Linked DNA regions of Homo sapiens: region 1 is linked to region 2. A link means that fine-mapping ties the variant in region 2 to the expression of a gene that starts in the linked region. Tissue or cell type: whole blood. Region 2 holds a variant in brackets; the other region holds the start of a gene. All regions are shown on one strand. Distances are between the middles of the regions. Region 1 holds the start of PCDH1 (protocadherin 1). Region 2 overlaps LOC107986454 (a long non-coding RNA gene).

Evidence for each region.
Region 1: PCDH1 starts here. The variant in region 2 is fine-mapped to the expression of PCDH1 in whole blood (INTERVAL, PIP above 0.99).

What each region holds. Positions count from the first base shown.
Region 1 is chr5:141,874,779-141,883,100 of GRCh38, reverse strand. PCDH1 (protocadherin 1) reads left to right here and starts at 4,691. Exons shown (of 5, transcript NM_032420.5): 1 at 4,691-4,878. The coding sequence starts at 4,839. RefSeq lists enhancers at 1-663, 4,693-5,442, 5,709-6,393.
Region 2 is chr5:141,819,007-141,827,328 of GRCh38, reverse strand. LOC107986454 (a long non-coding RNA gene) reads left to right here. Exons shown (of 3, transcript XR_001742906.2): 1 at 1-5,840. Among named protein-coding and RNA genes, the nearest start is that of PCDH1, 55 kb to the left of the region's middle. RefSeq lists enhancers at 1,298-1,986, 3,790-4,290. The variant G/C (reference allele first, on the strand shown) is at 4,551.

The sequences.
Region 1 (8,322 bases), 56 kb before region 2:
TCAGGCAGTTCCTGGTAAAGAAGGATTTTAAGGGGGTGGGGAGGGAGGAACCCCCACTACCTGTGGCAGGGAAGGGGAGATTCTGTGCCCCTTCCTCAGGAGGCAGCAAAGCCAGCTACCAAGCTTTTGCTACCTCTTCCCCCCACTCCACGCTCCATCCCGCCTGGTTCCCCAAATCGGGGTCCCACCCTCAGTTTGCATGGGGCAGCTCCCCGTTTCTCTCGGTCCTTTCATCGGGGGCTGTCCCTAAGGCTTGGTCCCTCCTTCCTGCTCCTGTCTCCCCTCCGATTCTTGCACTGCACAGCCTACCCAGTTTCTATGGAAACAGGCTGGGAAGGCACTGCCAGGAGGCCAAGGCCACTACAGCTCTTGGGGGGAGGGGAAGATAGAAATGGAAAGAGAGACGCAGGAGGCGAGTTCTGGCCATTCCCGGAAGCGGGTGGAGATCTGTTGGGAGTGAGCCTTCACTGCCAGAGGGGTGGGGCAGAAGGAGAGGTGTGATTAAGTGATGTGACTGAGACAGAGTTGAGGGGCTCCTCCTCATTCCCCCAATTCCCAGTGCTCCAGACATCTAGACAAGCCTCCTCAGAGGGGAAAGTGGTGGATGAAGAAGGAAAAGAGACAGGTAGTACCAAGAGCTCTGCCCATTTCTAACTTATGTGAGGCTCTATCCTTTTACCCCTCCTGGGGACATGCCCACTTGAGAGGAGGTCTCCAGGGAACTAGAAGGCTCCCAAGAAGTGGGAGGGAAAATTGGAGTGCGGTGTGAGTGGTCAGGGATGTTCAGGAATCTCCCCTAGGAAGGTGAGCTAGAGGTGGGCAGAGGCCTCGGAATGTCAGCTACTTTTATGGTACCCCTCTCTGGCACCTCCACTGAGGAGTTGGTAGGGGGCTGGAGACTGTCAGCTTCCTCCCCTCTGTTCATCCCATCAGAACGTTGGGCTATGAGAAAACAAAAGTGGCCTAGTGGGGGTTGGGTGCACAGAAAGGGAGATAAGCCTAAGGCAAGAAGGGCCAGAAGAGGGGTGGGTGAATGAGTGAGTGCGGATGCTTGTGGCTAGGGCAGGGAGGGAGCTTCTTAGAAGCTTCATCTGCCAGCTCCTGGGAAGTGATCCCCAGCCCTCACCCTCTCCCGATGCTCCCACCTCAGGCAAAGCTGCCCCTTGGACAGGAACTATTGGAAATCTCAGAGTCCTGGGAGATTGTGCTGTGGGGGATTCCTTGGAAAGGGGCCTTCTAGGTTATCAGAACGTTCAGCAAAGCTTCCCTGGGGGAGAGGGGTAGTGAAACAGGTACCCTGGAGCCTAGGGTTTCCTGGATCTGAGCCATCGGCTCTCCCTGACCATAGTCCCCAGAACAGTCGTCTTGGTGTTTGCTTATTTTGGTTATTTTTTGATCAGATATTTTGGCACTGAGCACACTGCCTCCTGTTGCCATGGCAGCCGTGACAGGGGCTGAGGCACCGTGAGAAAAATACCAAAATTAATGAGTGAGCGAAAGTGCAGCCGAGAGAAAAACAAGGTTAAAAAAAGAGTTAAAACAGTAATGAAAACAGGCTTTCCAGCTCCACAGCAGAGCAGCTGCTGAGGCCTCCCCAGAGCAGCAGCCCCCACCCAGCCTAGAGCTCCTGGCATCTCCCAGACCTCAAGGCAGGACTCACTTGGCTTCCCCCACCCAGCTCGTCACTGACCCAGCAACAGCCACTTGGGGACCACCCTATGCACAACAGTAGATCAGCTCCAACAGTACATCAGCTTCCATCTCAGGTAGTATCCTGCCTCCCAGAACAGCTTGTCATCTCCTAAACAATAGAGTCTCAGCCACAGCCCCCACACAACAATGGTCCAGCAAAATTACCAGGAAATGGCCTCCTAGCTACACCCAAGCTTTAAAGTTATAGCTGCAGGCATCCCAGCTAGAGTCCAGCACACAGTAACAGCCCAACCACAATTCTGAGCAACAGCATCTTAGCTATAGCCAATCCCCAGTATGCTGTCATCACAGCTACAGCTCCAGGACCAATAGCAGCTCAGCTACAGTCCTATACACAACAGTAGCTCTGCTCCTATCCCAGGTAACAGCCTGTCTCCCAGGTACAGGCTCCTCGCAACAGCCTCTCATCTCCTAGGACCTAGGCAATGGATCCAGTTACAGTCCCATCTACATCATATTAACAGGGAACAGCTTCTCAGCTACAGCCAGTCTCAGGTGTGCCAGCCTCATATCTATAGCTTCAGGCCCAACAGCTTATCAGTTACAGTTCTCCCTCAACATGCACACACACACCCATATACACACAGCTTGGCGATAGTTTCTCAGGTAATCTTATTGGCTATAGCCTAGGCACACCAGCATCAGAGCACTGCAACAGTGTCCTAAGTACAATCAGAGGCAGCAGCCTTGGTGTTACAGTTCCAGGCCCTACAGCATCCTAGTTCACTTAGCCACAGCCCATCCCAGGTACACGGATATCACAGCAAGCACCCCAACCATTCCCATACCCAGCATCACCCTGGTTCCAATCCCTGGCCACAGTCTCAGCTGGAACTCAGGCACCATCAGTTTCAGGAGCCTCCCCCAGTGCTTCACTTGCCAAGCAGGTCCTCCTCCCACTTTGGTACAGGGCCAGAAGTCTGACTTCTCTCCTCTTCAAATGCCACCTCCCTTGCTCCCCAACCATCCTCCCAGTCCCTGCTTGCTCACCTGCCCTCTTTCCTGGGGAAAAAAGGCCCCAATTCTCATATCTACATTGTCCCTGACTCAGGGGCACAGAGCCCAGCCTGGCAGCTGGGGTAGGAGGGGCTGGGGAGCAGGGAGAAGAGTAGGCACACCCTGGTGCTGCTGCTGTGGCCCAGTTCTGCTCCTACCACTTGGTGCAGAATTTGAGTTTGATGGTGGTGGAGCAGGGAGGATGGAGGCGAACATCTGGGAGATTAGCATTTCCTGCCCAGCTCTGCGGCTGCTGATCCTGCTCAGCCCTGAGCAAGGGAGGAGAACAGAGGAGCCTTTGAATGGCTCCCAGCAAGCAGACTGGGGAGGGTTTGCTGCATTGGGCAGCGGGCACACGCTGGGGGCAGGGAGACCGGGGCAGCTCTTCTGTGGAAGATTTCTTCTCTCTGGGCCACTGATTCCCTCCTCGGAGCTGTGCTCAATGATGTGGAGAGTATGAGCTTTCTAGAGACAGAAAGAAGCTACTTACAGAACAGACCCACCCCCCTCTTTCACCAGATTACCCCATCTCCCATCTAGAGCCCTGCCCCTGGGCTCCTGGGGCTGAGGGATAGAGCAGAGCCCAGGTCAGAAAAGGAGTCCAGTTAAGCAGGGCTGCTCTGGGAGAGATCTTGGACAGACTTTGCTTGCCCTCTTAGCTAACCAGAGATTCCACTTTTACCCTGAAGAGCATCCCACCGAGAGAGGCCAGAGCTGAGAAGAGAAGGAAGTAGAAGAAAGAGGAAAGGCACAGAAGAGTGGTAGGAACAGGAAAATGGGGAAGGACAGAGATGGGGAGTCAGAGGCTATGGCAAAAAGAGGCCCAACAACTGGTCATCCCATAACAAGAGCCTTTCCTCACCCAGCACTAGGCCTGGCTAGGGATAACCTTCCTCATTCTTTTGACCTAGAACACTCTGCCTGGGCCTGCAGGCGAAGAAGGCAGGAGGTCCTGTTGAACTGGGACACTTGGTAGCCTGGGTTACCAAACCGCAAGCGCAGGAGAGGGAGTTCCCAAGCTACTCAGAGACCTCTAGATGGCGCCAGAGAGCCAGAGCTGAATGGGAGAAACCGAGTATTGGAGTGTGTGAGACACTGCGTGTGACACCGTGTGTGATTTGGTGTGAGTGTGATAGGGAGCGTGTGGCACTGCGAGGGCGTGTGACACAGGCCGTGACACTGCGCGGCCTCGCGGGGCAGGGACCCGGTGACTGTATAATGTAAGTCACTGGCAAATACGTGTGGCCGCAGCACTACGCCGTGCAGAGGGCAGGTGATCAGGGGACCCTCGAATAGCCTAAGCTCAGGAGCAGCACTTCGTCTTCACGCTTGTGTATCTTCCCCATCCTCACTCTAGAGCCCCCGGGTCCCATTAGCCTCCTCCTCCCACGGTCCCCTCCATAGCCCCACCCCCACGGCTTGCTGCGGCCACCGAGGCTGACCGCTCTGCGGCTTCGGCCGGAGGGGGAGGGGTGGACTTTCCCCGAGCGCAGCGGGAAGGGAGGGCCACACAGGGCGATCGGGGATCTGGGCGGGAAGAGGGTGGATATGGAGGAGCAGGTGCCCAGGGAAGAAGGCGCTGTGGGAGACACTTCCCTTGCCTCGACTTCCCAGGGGGCAGACAGAGCTGGGGACAGGTGTTTGAGTAGGGTAAGGAGGGGAATCCAGGAGCGGTCCTAGATGGAGGCTTGGGTGGGATAAGTGTAAGGTGAAGCTCAGAGGAGGGCACGGCCTGTGTACTGGGCCTCGGGCAGTGAAGAGATGGCAGAGGGAGGGGTCCAGGCTTTGGGGAGCGGTGCTCGGGGTCCCCTCCCAGCCGGACCGGAGCGGTCCCGAGCTCCACCTCCCGGCCGGAGGGGGGGCGGGGAGGCGGGCGGGCCGGGAGGGAGGGGGGAGGGAGGGGGCGGGCCGGGCTGTGCGCTCCGCTCTCTGCTGGCTCCGCCGCCGCCGCCGCCGCCGCCGCCGCCGCCGCCGCCGCCTCACACACTCGGGGAGCGGGAGCGCGGCGCGGACGCAAAGCCGCCGGGCTGCTGCGCCCAGAGCCAGCCGGAGCCGGAGCCGGAGCCCGAACTGCAGCTCCAGCCCCAGCCGTGCGGAGCCGCAGCCCAGGCCGGGGCCGGCGGCGGCTCATGGACAGCGGGGCGGGCGGCCGGCGCTGCCCGGAGGCGGGTAAGGATCCGGCGGCGGTGGAGGCAGCAGCGGCTTGGGGCCCGAAGCGGTCATGGCCGGCGGGAGCTGAGGGAGGGGCGCTCGGCGGAGCGAGGCCGCGGGGGCCCAACACGAGCTCGGCGCGAGGGGGCTGAGGTGGGGGCTGCTGGGAGCCCATAGCAGGGGATGCGGCTGAGGGATTCCGTCCTCCCAGGTCCGCGGCGAGAAGCCGAGGGAGGGGAGGGGGTGCTGAGCAGAACCCTAGTCCCCGCGTCCCAAACCTGGGCGCGCTCGGAGAGACGGGGATAAGGAGACTCCAGGAGCGCGCGGCGTGGAGGATGGGTTTGGGGAAGCGCGCGGCCCCCAGTTTGGTGGGGGTCTCCCGGAGGACGGAGCAAGCAAGGACCGTTGTCCACAACACATACATACACACTTGTTGGGCAACTACCTCGGCTCACTCAGCCGCTTCCAGCTTCTCGCGGGCACCCAGAGGGCCAGACCGTGGACATATATACACACATACATACATCCCTGCATATGTGCACACAGACATACCTCCCGCACACCAGCGCCCACTGGGGCACCGTCGCCAGCTCAGAATCCGCTTCAGTGTCTGCACGATCAGCAGCACCGACACACAACCCGTGGCTTTACAGAGCAATAACACAACCGGGTGTGACACCCCGCGACGTGGACACACAAACACAATCTCGTGCCCTCATGTACGAGTGTCACAGCCACAGTTCACTAGATGAACCCTCAAAACCTAGCCACCCCCCACATTCCTTTAAGGAACACACCCTAGCATATATCATCTTACCCACTTCTTGGCCAGAACATAGGTACACAGCACAGGTCTCCTTGCACCCCTCTACTGCACCCACACAAACACACAACCCAGTATCTCAGCACACGCTTGATGGCACACACTCTAACACAGGAATTGGCACCTACAGCAGCGCCTCACGGTCACAAACACAGAATCCACTGCTTCACCCATCTTAACACTGGGTGTCACACACACCTTAAACCAACAGTGTCACATTACATTACACCCTGCAGCGCATACACACAAACACACACACTCCGTTCCTCTCTCTCGGAGTCCAGATTCAGGCAGGAGAAGCCGCCGGGGTCGTTCGGCGAGCCCCAAGCGCCCCGCCACGTTAATCGCGACATTATTATTGTAAATATCGGCACAGCGGGAAGGCTGGGCCGGCCTGCCGGCTTCCCAGTCGGCGCCTCCCCAACCCCCACTCCCGGGCCGAACCGGCTGGTGTTCCGGGAACAAGCTGGACCTGGCTGGCCAAGCCATCCCGCCTCCCCGGAGCTCTGGGGCCCCAGGTTCCTTTGTAGAGGGTGCTAGCCTGGGACGGTGATTGCGACCCTCTTCCAGCCATTTAGCTGAGTTTTCTGAGCCACCTGGGTCTCCAGCACACCTGGGTCCCACACACCTTGGTGGGTCCCGCACACCTGGGTTCGTCTCACACCTGAGCGCCCCCTCCGCCTGGTCCCCGCTGTAGGCCAGTGTGTGCGCGGGCAGGCCCTGGAGCCAGAACGGAGATCGCGGCAGGCATAGGAGCAGAATTTGTAGGCGAGGTGGTCTCGCACCCCTTCCCCCCAGCTACCCTCTGTAAGTCAGAATTCTGGCCTCAGTTTCCCCAACAGTGGTCGGCTACTATTTCTTCTGCCAGGAAAGACTGGGGGCGGCACTGAGGCCTTGGAGGATTGAGCGTAGGGCAAAAAACCCCCTCTGCTCGCCACGAGAGGGTCGGTTTTATGAGAATGTCCCCGCCTAGCCGGGTTCGCGGCTTTGTGATTCCGGCGCCGGCTCCCTCCCCGCCCCCTCCTGGCGCCCGCTGCGCCGCTCGCGCCGGCTCCGGCTTGCGGGGGACCCTAGGCCGAGGCCGGAGATGCCGGGGAGGAGGGATTCCCCGCGGTGGCCTGGGTGCGGGGGGCGCAAGGGCTCCCCCCACTAGCCGAAGCGCGTTCTCACCACGCCGCGCCCTAGCCTTGCCTTGGGTTCCTGGAGGCTGGGCGCTGCCGGGGTGGGGGTGGGGCCGCCAGAGCCCAAGAAACTGCCGCCGTCCCCCCCGCCACCCCCTAATCTCCGCAACACACACACACACTCGGCGTCCTCTGGGAGGAGTCGCTCCGCGCGCTGGGTGTGTGCTGGGAGCGCCCGCTGACCAAGGCGGTGCGGACTGGGGCTGCTTGGGTCGCTTCGTGCAGGAAGACGCCGCGAGGCTTCTAGCACCTGCTCTGGGTCAACCCTCGGGAGCTGCCAGGGAAGGGGCCGCCCAGAAAGTTTTTATGACAAGCCGGAGGTCTAGCTGTGTTTGTAGGGGGTGGGGGGCGCGGGAGTAGGTGGGTGTTACTTTATTGACGTTAAGGTCTGGGGGAATTGGAACCTGTAATTACAACTAGACTAGGGCATGGGGTGGAATCGAGGGGAGAGGCAGACTGGCCCCCAGAGGTAGCCAGAGGCAGTGTGATAGGGAGGCAAGTCTGGATTCAGTTCTGGCCGCATTTAGTTTTTACCCCTTCTCCTACCCACCTCCAATTCCCAATTCCAAAAGGGACTTCAGCTGGAAGTGGGTGTCTTGCTGGTCTGCCATCTTCTTAGCAGAGGGGCTGCTGCTGTGGCTACTTCTGCAGGGGAGCTGGGCAAGCGATAGTAAGCTAATTGCTGAGAAGGGGGTTGAAGGGCCAGGAGGGGGCCGCGAGGGTGGGGGAGGAGCTAAGTGGGAATCAGGGTTCGGGGAGGGGTGTAGGGAAAGAAGAAGGTGAGGGCTGCCCCTGCCGTGAGCAAGGATAGTTGGTGCAGAGATTCTGTTCAACAATGTATTGAGCACCTTTTATCTGCCAGGGTCCATGGTGGGTGGTGAGGATGCAGTAGTAAGAGACATACCATCATTGCCTTCATAGGACTTACCAACCAGCGAGGGGATTGGCTTGTTTATTCATCGAACCAAGGAGCACCCACTGTGTGCCCGATGCTGGAAATAAAATGGTCTATTCAGCAATTAGAAGACTTAGAAAAAAAAATGATTTGTCCTTTACATGTAATGTAAATAGACCTTAATGTAATAGACCTTATAGGCATGAGATCTCATTTAATTCTCCCAAATAATTTCAAGAGGCAGGTTTCATTATTTCCATTTCACAGTATGGAAACAGGTTCAGAAAAGTAAATTCACTTGGTTAATGTCACACAGCTAGGAAGTGGTGGAGCGAGGGTTCTAACCCCAACGATCTGACATGCAGGTGCCCAGAAGCCCTGCAGAGGCTAATAGAGGGTTGTGGGAGAGAGGGGAGAGGAGCTGAGGTCTGCACACTTGCTCTCTGTGGGAGGCTTCTGTTCAGCTCCACCCCACGCAACCCCATTTTCTTCCCCTCTCCCCGCGACAGTCCGTTTGTCCCTTGGTGTTTTGTGCCCGCGGCAGTGACCGTTGTGTAACAGTG
Region 2 (8,322 bases):
GACACTCAGTAGGGTAGGCTGTGGTGCCTTTATCCAGAGTCTAAATGCTTGCTTTCAGTTCCACCTCCATATATTACATGCTGTGTGGCCTGGGGACAGTAGCTTTCCCTTTCTGACCTCGGTTTCTTCATCAGTAAAATGAAGATGCTAATACCACCTGTCCTGTCTTCCTCAATGTCTCCAACCAGCAGGTGCCTTTAACATGCCACGAGGCAAGAGTGAACTCAGGTGGAGGTACTTTGCTAAAAGCAGCCCAGGTAGGAGGAGATGACTGAGTAGAACTGGCCGTGTTATCCTCAGAATGATTTCTTGCTTCCCCAGGAGACTCCTGTTGCTGTGACGATTTTTCCTGGTTCTCAGTCCCTGGACTCTGGGATAGCTGAGATCTTCTGGCTCTCGCCTCACATAGCATCTCACAGTGATGTCCTGGCTTCCTGCCTAGGCCCCAATCACCAGTTCTGGTGCTGACCCTGCAGGTCCTAGCTCCCTCCCAGCCGGCCTAGAGACAGGGCCCAGGCTCATTGGAAGGAACAACAGGAGACTTGCCTGAAAGCCAAATGTTCTACCCAACAGGACCTGATTATGGTGGCCAAGGGGCTGTACCTGGGCAGTCTCACCCAAGGGACACTTCTCAGGGGTCAGGAGAATTTCAGCTCTGTGTTTACACATGATTCTAGGCTGAGGGAGAGAGAAAAAGCAGGGTAGGGGGTGGCAGATTAGGCGAGGGAATGTGTCCCCTAGATGGTCCCTTAGCTCATAGTGGAAGTGGGCTCTAGAGCGCCTTGCCCATGCCCTCTTCATGCTCTAGAGAGGTGGGCAAAGGACAAAGTATGCGACTACCCAGGAGAACCAGCCTCCAGATTGAGATTGGAGATGAAGGCCACTCAGTCCCCTCCATTGCAAAAAGAATAAAAGAAAGGAGTAGGATTGGCCATTGCTTGCAAATAAACAGGAGGGGGCAGTGTTGGGGTAATGACCTCCATCCGGGGAGGGTCAGGAAGGGAGCTGTCCTTTACTGGGCACCCAGGAGATGCACCTGTACAATTTCATTCATTCTCACGACCACCTCGTTAGGTAGGCACTATCTCTGTGGCTCCATTTGGCCAATGAAAAGGATGAAGATCTGAGAAGTCAAGTTACACTGCTAGGAAGAGGTTGACTTGGAGTGGAAACCCAGGACTGCCTGTCTGACTGCTGAATGGGTGCTTTGCGTTCCTTACCTGCCCTCCCAGGGCTCCAGACCGTCCCTCCTGCACATCTGCCTCTCCCAGGCCGTGCCTGCATGTCCCCAGCCCCCTCCAACAGCTCCATCTCCCGAGAGCTCCTTGAATCTCCTCACTCACTCCTCACTCTTGCTTCCTCTTTGGAATCCAGCCACAGGCTTTTTTCTTCCATCTGAGGGAGAGAAAATGGTCTCGTTCCCCACCCCCAGGTCTTTCCATCCTCTCATCCATCCAAACCTAAGCATCTCTCACTCCTCCCCTCCCCCTCTCTTATTTTTTTTTTCTTTCTGTTTATCCATCACTAGAATCTACCCCCCTTCCCTCTTGCCTGTAGGTTCTGTGGCTATAAACAAATCATAACTTTTATTAAATTTAAGATTACTTTTTAATGGAATCAATTTCTTGTGTGGTGCTTCTCTGCCTGCCCGCGGGCTCTGCCGGCTCTGCGCTCAGCATCCCCACCCGCACAGTTGTCTCTGCCGCTGGCGTTTCTGGCTAAGCTGCCTCTGAAGGAGGGGCAGGTCTGCCATCCCTAAACACACACAGAGAAACACACACACACATGCACACACTCCCACACACACACGAAGATGCACCTTCCTGCAAGGCCCAGACACAGAGCCGCCAAGCCCCAGGTGCCCACACTGAGCGGCAGGGAGTGGGAGAGGGGCAGGGGCAGGAGGAGAGAGCTGCAGAGAGAAAGACTGAGGGTGCAAAACAAATGCGGAGCCGAGCAGACATTTCTCAGCCTGTTAATTTCCTACAGTTCTGTTTTCCAGCCTCAGAAACAAGCTGGTTTCTGCCAGTCCACCCCCTTCCCTCTGACTGCATTGTGCAGCTGCTGAGCAGAGAGAAGTTGCAGGGAGGAGGGGGTTCCAGAGGAGAAGCGAAGAGACTCAGGTTTTCATACGATTTATCAAAGTACAGGCAAGATGCAGAGATGCTTCTGAAGCTGTGACCCCAAAAAGAAGCTCAACTGGGAGATTTGCAGCCTGGACCAGTCTAACCCTACAGGTCTGGGCTTCAGGAAGAAGGGAACCTGGGGGTGCTGCAGGGAATACTTTGGAGGTAGGAGAGAAAAGAAAGAGGGGTTGGAGGGTCACTTTGATGGAGGGAGCAGGGGCTGGGAGAGGTATTGGGGGAGTTCTCAAAACGAGCTCATGGGGGGCCTAGAGATGAGGATTTGCAGACTCAGCAAAGACTTGGCTGCCTCCTTGAGGCATCGGCATGGCTCTGGTCTCTGTTCCAGCTTTTCTGGGAGTATCCCTGGACACTCTTAGGTAGACAGGAGATCATGGGTGGGAAGGTGGATCTGAGGCCTGAGGGTGGCCCCCCTTGGCCCACTACACTGTCCTCAGCACACATTGTTAGTAAACTGAGTGTCAGGCGGGAGACCTCATGTTCATCCAGGTACATGTTGCAAAGCTCAGTGAATAAGAGCACAGCCTTTGGAATCAGAGAGGTCCACAAATCTAGACTCTGAAGCTTTCTAACTGTGTGACCTTGAATAAGTGACCTAACTTCTCTGAGCCTGTTTCTTACTCTGAAATAAGGATTCAGTAAAGTGATGCATGTGGAACATCTAGCGTAAAGCCTGACAGAGTAAGAGTTCAAGTGGATTGCTAATATTTGTATTATATCTTCTAAGCACCAACCAAATGCACACACATAGCCCATGATCCCCCGTGCCTAGGTTGATTGGGACCAGGCAGGCCTCCGCTCTTGGATTAAATTCAGGCTGGGACCAGAGACCATGTGAGTGACAGTTCCCAGGATTGGAATTCAGGACACAGCAGGGCTCTTCTCCCTCCTTCAGGTGGAAGAGTGGCTGAAGGGCTTGTCAGGAGAAGAGGTGAGGGACTGATGAAGCCCCCTGGGTACTGAAGGCCAAACTCCATTCCTTACCCCTGATTTTCAGGGAGCAATGAACCTGAAGCCGGGTTTCTTCTAGGGCAGAATAAAAGGAAAACATCCTGTGGCCAGTTCCTGCCCTGCAGCCTCTGATAGCCTCCTGTTGGCTTGGGGGACTTTAGAGGGCTCTGACATCCTTAGACAAGGCCTAGAGAAGGGGGTCTATAAAGATTTAATTTGGCACAGGGCATGAGTGCCCTTTCTATCCCTCCTGTCCTTTAACCCCAGGGGGTAGGAAAAAACTCAAGAATGCAAACAAGGGGCAGAACTGGAAAAGGCTGGTTCTGGTAGTGAAACCCCTCATGTGCCCAAACTTGGGAGCAGATGCCAACATGGCTGCAGTCACAGTACAACCAGGATCGGCGGCTCAGCCCCATCAGGCTGTACTTTGGAGCCCAGCCGCTTCCTTGGAGAGAGGGACAGCTGGAGCCTCCTCTCCCAGGCAAGAACTCACCTCTCATCTTTCTATTACCCCTAAAAGGAGGCTGTTTCAACGGGCTCAGCAACTCCCTCGGTTTGACCCCTGACACAAGCATGCCTGCTGAATCTACACCTGGACCTAAAGACTTGTAGAGTCCTTTCTGGGGCTGGATGTTCCCACAGGACAATTACCAGTCATGCATACAGAGCTTTGCTGCCCAAGGGGACTTTCTGAGGGCTGAATATTATTTACTTCAACTCTCCTTTGACAAGGCACCTGAGGCCCAGATGGGGAAAGTCACACAGGACTGTGATGGGGCCTGATCGAGATCTCCTGAATCTTCCCAGTGCTGCTTGCTGTGCTTTGTGGCCCTTCCTCTGGCTGTAACTGTAATCCCACCTATACCTTAGGTTGCACATGCTCATACAGCGCTTACCATGAGCCACCCTCTGAGGCAGGTACTGTTATGATTCCCATTTTACAGCTGGGGAGGCTGAGGCTCAGAGAGGTTAAATACTTCCCTAAGCTAGTATGTGGTCGAGCTAGAATTTGAAACCAGAATGTCCTGCCCCAGAATCTAGACTCCTAACCACTGGGCTGTGCTACCTCTCTTCTCTGGAAGCTTCACCTGTACCTGGACACATTTACCTTCACTTTCCTCTTCTCCTGTCCTTAGCTTTCACCACCACCTTCACAATTTCTCATTTCAGGCTAAGCCAGATAATCACCCCAGACACAAGGGCAGGCTCAGCACTGCTATCAAAATCCCTTTTCCTTTTATCTTCTCCATCACCATCTTAGCCTTATCGCGTTCACTATCATGATCAACTTCACCATTTATAAAGTCTCTAATTGCAAATGACTGTGTACCTATAGACCAATGCAGATCTAACCCCTGCCTTGGGATGGGAGGATGGGGCTTACAGTCAAACCAAACAGCAGTTTAAGCCACATATACTCCTCCCTTTGTAAGTAAAGGTACGAAACCAGAATGT[G/C]GAAGGCAGTCTTCTTCTTAAGAGATTTTTCTGCAATAAGATGGAGGTGGTGAAGGAGAAGTTTCGAACAGCCAAAGAGTGCCTGCTGAGGGAAATTAATCAATGGCCAAGAAGATTGCTTGTCATCTTTCAATATCTATAAGAAATAACGAGCCTCCAGAGAGGGAGCTAGAGCTCCAAGGGAAAAGAAGACCAGTGGGTACTCTGTCCAACTCATGCCTCTAAGGAGCTACAGGAGAAAGATGGAGCCATAGGCAGCTTCCACCCCTTTGGATGGTGGCCAACACCCATCTCCCCAGCCACAGTATCTCTCACAGCCCCTGGGGAAGCCAGAAGCAAGCAACACTGCCCAGGAGTTTTAAAACTGATTCTTCCCTTAAGCTCAAGTCCCACCCACCTCCCAACCCAGTGAGCTTGCTGGTTGGCTGTCCATGAGTGTTGGCTGCCAGATGTGCCATCATCCGGCACAGGATGTACAGGAAAGAGGGCAATGGCTTCCCGGACCAGAGTCTCCACCCAGAATTCCAGCCAAGGCCCCAGAGCTCCCAGGACCTGGAGAATTTGTTCCCCCTGGTTGTGTTTGGAATTGGCTGGTTTTCTGGGCACCAGGCCCAGCTCAGTTTAATTTTTGTTTATTTTTATGTACAGATTCTCTTCTGTTTGGGGATGAGCTTTGTGTAAATTATTATTATTTATATGATAAAGAATAAATCACACCAAATAAAAAAACCCACAATCTCTTTTTCTCAATAGAATTACTAAATTAGGGGCTGAAAGGAACAGCCGATATGCTGGGGTTTGGTTTCAGGAAGGCTTTGGACATGGATTCTCGCAAAACGTCTTAGTAAATGGGCTCTGTTATCCTGGATTTGATGCTACCCACAGTCCGCAGAGGCATAAGGGGCCTCCCAGAAAGATGGCAGTGGTTCAGGCCTAAGGGTGGCTTCCTGGCCCTCCAGACATCCCACCCCTGGAGAGATGAGTCGGGCATTTTGAAGTGATTCGCTAACTCAGAATGGGGAAAAAAAGGGAAAACAGGAGTTGGGGATTCTTGCCAGAACATGATCAAATGCCCTGAACTGGGGTGGGGGTAGGGTTCATAGGAGTTACTTGAATAGTGGCATTATTACATCAGGGAAAATGAGCCAATCATTTCTTTGCCTATTCATTAAATTTGCATGCTAAGACTCTATTGGTTGGAATGAAATGAGTCAGGAGGCAGGGATGCAGATGGGCAGAGGACCAGCTGGGCCTGGAAAGTGTCCCCAAGTGGCCCCCATCCCAGCCAGGGTAGGGAGAAGACCAATTCACCAAAAATACTGCACCCTCACCCCCTATCATCCACCTTTGGATAAAATTCTGTTTGGGAACTAGAGAAAGACACACCCAGGGCAAGAATCCATCCTGGGGCTAATATCCTAAAGACCAGATAGAGAAAAAAGTCAGCAATAGTTGTTTTTTGTTTGTTTTTGTTATTTTTGTTGTTGTTGTTTTAAATCTCCTAGGACCTCAGGCTACCAGAGATTTTTCTTTTTTTTTTTTTTTTGACGAAGTTTCGCTCTTGTTGCCCAGGCTGGAGTTCAATGGCGCAATCTCTGCTCACCGCAACCTCCGCCTCCCGGGTTCAAACGATTCTCCTGCCTCAGCCTCACGAGTAGCTGGGATTACAGGCATGCGCCACCACGCCTGGCTAATTTTGTATTTTTAGTAGAGACGGGGTTTCTCCATGTTGGCCAGGCTGGTCTCAAACTCCCGACCTCAGGTGATTCGCCTGCCTCAGCCTGCCAAAGTGCTGGGATTACAGGTGTGAGTCACCACACCTGACCAGCTACCAGAAAGTTTTAAAAAACATCTAGGCTGGGCGCGGTGGCTCATGCCTGTAATCCCAGCACGTTGGGAGGCCGAGGCGGACGGATCACTTGAGGTCAAGAGTTGGAGACCAGTCTGGCCAACATGGTGAAACCCTGACTCTATTAAACATACAAAAAATTAGCCGGGCATGGTGGCGCATGCCTGTAATCCCAGCTACGCAGGAGGCTGAGGCAGGAGAATCGTTTTAACCTGGGAGGCGGAGGTTACAGCGAGCTGAGATCGCACCACTGCACTCTAGCCTGGGCCACAGAGCGAAACTCAGTCTCAAACAAACAAACAAACAAAATCCATACACACACAGAAAAACTTCTGGCACCGTTGCCTATCAGCTTTTTCTCAAACTGTGTCCTCTTCCTAGAATGGACTTCTCCTATCTTCCCACCTAAGTAAGTCCTACCTTTGCGTCAAGGCACAGCTATAGCCATTGTCATGGTGGGGTCCCAGAGCAGGGACTCTGGCGTCTCCTCTTGAGCTTGAAAATCTACTCTGCCGCTTAATAGCTGTGGAAAATTTGGGCAACTCGCTTAATCCTCCCTGAGCCTTAGTCTCCCCATCTGTAAATGGGATAATAATAGCAATCACACATACCCAGAGGCTTAAGAGTGAGGATTAAATCAGAAAGGTCACATGTAAAATGTGCTTACACAGTAAGTGCTCTATTAAAGTGGTAGTTATTTAGAATGATACTCTAGTAAGCTATCCCAGAGCTCCCCAACTGGGAATTAACTGTGTCCCACTCTGACATGTACCTTGGGAACACAGGGATTCCACCTTTAGGGTTTCTGACTAAATCATTTTTCACAGTCTGCCCTGAATCAGCTATTATGTAATGAATCTGGCAGTCCCTAGCCAAGCTTTGCACTTAGTAGGTACTTGCTAAGACAATAAATGCTTGTTTAAAATATTGCCCACCTAGTCAAATTCCCAAACCCTGTAAAACCCCACTAAATTCTAATCTATTTGTCCTGAGTCCCACACAATGCCTGGTTCAGCCACTTCCAGTAGAGTGGGAAATGGGGAGCAGTGGAAGATGGGCTGGGGCCCCAGGAGGAGAGGGGAGATGAGAGGTGGGAAATAAATGGAGCCTGTAAGGGGTTTTACTGTGTCCAGGCCACATGGATCAATCTGTTTTCACTGCCCCTCCATAGGGCACTTTAAATTCCACCCTCGTCTTTGATTAACCAATGGCTGACCTGAGACAGGTCTGCTTGTGCAGGTCCTCATCCAGCCAGAGGAGGTGTATATTGATTAGCTAGACTAGGGCAATGAACTGTACAGGCTCTGGATTGCCTAAAAGGCCCCTTGAGAGGTGGTCCTTGTGGGCGAGGGAAATCTCTGAGTCACCGTGGGTACTCATGCACTTGCCCATGAATAACCATACATTTATATGTGTATGTTTGTGGGTAAATACTGGCCCTTTTATCTTGGTGTGTATTCAGTAATTCATTCATTTGTTCATTTATTATTTATTGAGGCCCTACTGTGGGCTAGCACAATGCCGACGCTAGAATGTGGTAGTCGCTAAGGCAAAATTCCTGCCCATACTGAGCTTTTTTTCTAGCGAGTGGAAAGAGTAACAGTAAAGCAAAGAAATTAACAATTTAGTTTTAGATCGTGAAAGTGCTGTAAAAATAATAAAACAAGATAAAGGGATAGAGAGCAACAGTGCATGTAGAGGGAGCTCCTTTAGGACGAGTGGTTTGGGTCAAGACCTAAATGATGAGAACAAATCAGCCTCAGAAAAAATCTGGAAACAGAGCATTCCAGGCAGAGGGCACAGCAAGTGCAAAAGCTCGGAAGAATTGCTTTGGGCCAGTGACTCTAGGAATCTGTGTCATTCTGAGGCAAATGTCAATCAGCTTTTATTGCACGTACACATTTGTATCTTTCCATTGCTGTT